Linked DNA regions of Homo sapiens: region 1 is linked to region 2. A link means that fine-mapping ties the variant in region 2 to the expression of a gene that starts in the linked region. Tissue or cell type: whole blood. Region 2 holds a variant in brackets; the other region holds the start of a gene. All regions are shown on one strand. Distances are between the middles of the regions.

Region 1 (2,671 bases), 23 kb after region 2:
TCTGAAATACTGAGACCTAAAACTTACAATCGAGATGGATAGGGAATTACTTTTTCCTTTACTTCCTTTACTAAATCCCTTTGTCTCCAAATCTATCAAGCAATAGTTTCTTTATCTGCAAACTGTGGATTATGTTACCTGTCTTGTCTGCTTTAGAAGGGAAACAAAAATTATGTAGAAATTAATAGGAATACTATTGAAACAGGAAAGGGACAACTTGCAAGGTTTGAAGCAATCACATGTTGAGTACTCAGTCAAGGCTTTCTTTTTTTTTTTAAATCAAAATGTTGATTGGGATATTTTATGGGTAGCAGGCTTGGATCCCAGCACTTTTCCAATAGGGGAACAGAAGCACCTTGTACCGCCCCAGAGTTTCCCTTCCCCCACACAATAACCCTAAAGCAAAAGCTATTATTATTATCATCGCCATGTGACAGAGGAAAACTTGAGATTGGGGGCTTAACTGACATTACATCAAGTCTCAAAAAGAAACAGTGGCAGTTTGAGACTTTGATCTACGACTCTTTTAAGAGTTTAGATTGCGTCCACAGCGAAACCTGCACAAACAGTTGTCAACAGCGGCTGCAAATTACAGGCTTATGAGGAACGTTTGAAAAATGCCAAGAGTTCTTTCCTCAGGCCAAATACTATGGTAGATAAAAGTATAGCCTTTGGAGCCAGAATCCCTGAGTTTGAATCTTGCCTGTGCCACTTGGTAGCTGTGTGACTCTGGCTGCGTACTTAACGGCTCTGTCTCAGTTTTTCTGTTGGTAAAATGAGGATAATAACACCTTCTTTGTAGGGTTGTTCTAAGGATTAAATGAGTTAATAGGAGTGAGCCACTTAGAATAGGGCCTGTTATATGGTAATCTCTATTTAAAATCCTGTCAGATACACCAAAGAAAACACTTTAAAAATATCTGTTAAATAAATCAGTAAAACAGAATCGGGGCATTGGTTCTTTAAAAGTACTCCCCCACGGTATTCTAGTATGCAGCTTGGGTTTTAATATCTGAATGTGGCGCCTTTTGGGATCTCGCCTCGCGAGAAATTGACATTAACGAATGAGTGAAAGGAGCTTCCCCCCCCCCCCCCCTCCAGGAAGATATAGACCCTGCAAACTTGTTAGCAGGACCTTGCGGACACCAAGGAGGCGGAGGCGTTTTCCCCATTTCCCCTTCGGGAGTTGTAGTTTCCTGCAAGCGCTTGGTGGGTCTGTAAACCAGCGGGGAACTACAACTCCCACAATCTCGCGCGCCTCCCGCCCTGCCTCCCGCCCGCGTTTCTAGCCCGACTCCCATTACCGCCCCTCGGGGGCGGCTGTGGCGGAGGAACGATGGCCGACGGCGGCGGCCCTAAGGACGCGCCAAGCCTGCGGAGCTCTCCCGGGCCGGCGCCGCGGGTCCCGCGCGCGGTCGGGCCGAGTGGCGGTGGCGGGGAGACCCCGCGGACCGCGGCGCTGGCGCTGCGCTTCGACAAGCCCATTAAGCAGGCCTTCTACAACACCGGGGCCGTGCTGTTCGTGTGCCTGTGCTGCGGCGCCGCGGTGCTGGTCTACTTCATCCTGGAGGCCTTCCTGCGGCCGCTGCTCTGGGCCGTGCTATGCGGCACTTTTCTGCACCCCTTCAAGAGCTCGCTGACGCGCCTGGGCCGCCACTGGCTGCAGCGCCTGCACCGCGCGCACACGCCCATCGTCCTGGCCGCGCTGCTCCTGCCGCTCTGCTTCGTCGACTACGGCGTCGAGGCCCTGGGCGAGCAGGCGCTGCGCCGCCGCCGCCTGCTCCTGCTGCTCGGCGCCGGCGGCCCGCTCCTGTACGGCCTCTACTGCCTCGGCAGCTACTTGGGCGTGCAGGTGCTGCTGGTGCACGCTGCCACGCTCATCTGCCGCGGGCTGGACTACTTCAGCAGCCTGTGGGTGAGTGAGCGGCAGTCCGCCCCCGTCCCCCGCCCGTGGTCCCGGCGCTCTGGGGTGCAATCCTGCAGCTGTTCCTCCCGGTGCAGGGGCGACGAGGGGCCACACCTGTGCTGCAGTGACCGTCCGTCTCCGCTTTCCTTCTCACACCTCAGGAATTTGGCGGACATTCTTCCAAAAAGGGGGCGGGCGTGATTTGAAACAGCCTCCCTGCTTTTCGCCTTGTTTCAATCCTAATAGGCCCTCTTAGGGGGACAGTGCCCTGGATTGAGAATCGTTATTTCGCTTTGCAGAGAGAGGCCTCAGAGCATGGCAGTGGGGCTTGGTTTTACTTCTGGTTGGAGAGGGCGGGGGTGCTTCGGCCACCCTCAGTTCTGCGCATCTGAATGTCAGAGCTGGAAGGGACCTTAGAGATTCTAGGCCAACTTGCCATCCTGCAGATAGGAAAGGTGACCTCTTACCAGGCTAGGGCTACTTAGGGACAAAGAGGGGTTTGGGTGTCTTAGATTTCTTACAAGTCCTAAAACAAAGCTTGCTTCACTGGCTGGTGCTGCCTCTCAGTTCAGGTGATTCCTGTATAATTTGTGCAAGGCACTGGGTGCTGAGCTGCCTGTGCTTCTTCCTCTCCACGCTTTACTTTTAGGTAACTGCTTTTGTTGTGCAGGGACTGGTGTACCACAGCACACCTCCTCCCGCCTGGAGTAAAGCAGCTGACCGCGTGAAGGGGAGAGACGTAGATTTGTGATGCTTGGATTAACC
Region 2 (2,500 bases):
TAATTTTTTTTGAGAACCTAATGTATAGGAAAAACAAAATGGAACCCCTTTTTAAAAGCGTTTAACTTTTTAAAAATGGTACATTATTAGCCGGGCGCAGTGGCTCACAATCCCAGAACTTTGGGAGGCCGAGGCAGGCGGATCCCCTGAGGTCAGGAGTTTGAGACCAGCCTGGCCAACATAGTGAAGCCCTGTCTCTACTAAAAATACAAAAATTAGCTGGGCATGGTGGCGGGTGCCTGTAGTCCCAGCCACTCGGGAGGCTGAGGCAGGAGAATTGCTTGAACCCGAGAGGCGGAGGTTGCAGTGAGCCGAGATCGCGCCACTGCACTCCAGCCTGAGCAACAGTGAGACTCTGTCGGGGAAAAAAAAAAAAAAAAGGTGCATTATTGTGTGCGTGTGTGTGTGTTTTAATTAGACTTTACGTTTTACAGCAGTTTTAGGTTCACAGTGAAATGGAGCCGAAGGTACAGATTTCCCATATACCCCCTGGGGAGCCTCCCCCATTATCAACATCCTGCACAGGATGGTACATGCATTACAACTGATTAACACTTTTTTTTGTAACTTTTTATTTTTTTGTGATGGAGTCTTACTGTATTGCCCAGGCTTGGAGTTCAGTGGCACTATTTCGGCTCACTGCAGCCTCCACCTCTCAGGTTCAAGCGACTCTCCTGCCTCAGCCTCCCAAGTAGCTGGGATTACAGGCACCTGCCACCACACCTAGCTAATTTTTGTATTTTAAGTAGAGACGAGGTTTCACCATGTTGGCCAGGCTGGTCTTGAACTCCTGACCTCAAGTGGTCTGCCTCAGCTTTCCACAGTGCTGGGATTATAGGCGTGAGCCATCACACCCGACCAAACTCTTTTAACTTTTTTAAACTTGTTTTGAAAAAAATGTAAACTGTAGGCAAGCAGGAAGGATAGTAAAGGTTTAAGTGACCCTCCCACCTCAGGCTCCCAAGTAGCTGGGACTACAGCTACTTAGATTAACAAAATAATAACTTTTTTATTGTGGTAAAACGCACATAACAAAATTAACCATTTTATTTTTTGTTGTTGTGTATTTTTTTTTTTATTTTTATTTTTTGAGACAGGGTCTCACCCTATTGCCCAAGCTGCAGTGCAGTGGCACAAACAAGACTCACTGCAGCCTCAACCTCCCCAGCGATCCTCCTACCTCAGCCTCCTGAGTAGCTAGGACTACAGGCATGAGCCCCATGCCCAGCTAATTTTTTAATTTTTTGTAGAGATAGTGTCTCACTGTATTGCCTAGACTGGTCTTGAACTTCTGGGCTCAAATGATCCTCCTGTCTTGACTTCCCACATTGTTGGGATGACAGGCACTAGTCACCACACCTGGCCAGAATTGACCATTTTATTTTATTTTTTTGAGAAAGGGTCTCACTCTGTCATCC[G/A]GGCTGGAGTGCAGTAGCACCAAAATTTATGATTTTAAAGTGTCAATGCAGTGGTATCAACCACATTCAGTGTTCTGCAACCATCACTACTCCCTAGTTCCAGAACTTTTTCATAAATAATGACATTAGCCACACATGCTTTATTCTCTGTACTGCTTGCTGCTACTGCTACTGCTACTGCTACTACTACTGATTATTATTTTTTTGATTGTTATTTTCTGGAATTTTGGCATTTAAATAGCAAATATCATAATCCTTTAACCCTAAATACTTAAGTAGGTTATCTCCTAAAATCAAGAATGTTCTCTTTTATTATATAGTTTATTAAATTCAGGAAGTTTAACATTGATATGATGGTATTATTAAATATATTGTTTGTTTTCATATGTTGCTACTTGTCCCAATACTGTCCTTAGGGAAATTTTGGGTTTATAGCCCAAATTTCTATGTAGGAACACCTAGAACTGCATTTTGTTGTCATGTATATTTTGAAATAGTTTCTTAGCCTTTTTTTTTTTTTTCTTTTTTTGGTCTTTTATGACACTGACTCCTTGAAGATTATAGGCTAGGTATTTTTTTAATTTTTTTTGTAGAATGACCTTCAGTTTGAGTTTGTCTGATTGTTTTTTCTTGATTAGGTTGGTTTGTGTTTTGGGCAGGATTACCACATAGGTGGTAATGTCTTCTCCAAACATCAGTCAGGAGGCACTGAATGTCACTTATTGTGATGGTAACTTTGGTCTCCTGGTTGAGACTTTTTAATGGCACTTAAAAGAATTTTTTTGGTGGGATTTCAAATTGCAGAGATGATGGAATGTATATTTCTAGTGACCAGTGTGCAAAAGATGAACCTTTGACTTTTTTTTTTCTCAATCATTTCTCATGTTAGGGTGGTGATGATGTCATGGCCTGCGTCCATGATGACAATGGCAGGGTCCGCATACAGCACTTCTATAATGTAGGCCAGTGGGCAAAGGAGATTCAGAGAAACCCTGCCAGAGATGAAGAAGGAGTTTTTGAGAACAATCGCGTCACCTGCAGATTTAAACGCCCTGTGAATGTTCCCAGAGATGAAACAATTG

The links. PIP is the estimated chance that this variant, and not a neighbour inherited with it, causes the effect.
Region 1: TMEM245 starts here. The variant in region 2 is fine-mapped to the expression of TMEM245 in whole blood (INTERVAL, PIP above 0.99).

The regions. Positions count from the first base shown.
Region 1 is chr9:109,118,579-109,121,249 of GRCh38, reverse strand. It overlaps TMEM245 (transmembrane protein 245), which reads left to right and starts at 1,303. Exons shown (of 18, transcript NM_032012.4): 1 at 1,303-1,915. The coding sequence starts at 1,337. RefSeq lists silencers at 1,154-1,203, 1,344-1,513, 1,864-1,973 and an enhancer at 1,624-1,673.
Region 2 is chr9:109,141,397-109,143,896 of GRCh38, reverse strand. FRRS1L (ferric chelate reductase 1 like) reads left to right here. Exons shown (of 5, transcript NM_014334.4): 4 at 2,308-2,500. Among named protein-coding and RNA genes, the nearest start is that of TMEM245, 23 kb to the right of the region's middle. The variant G/A (reference allele first, on the strand shown) is at 1,419.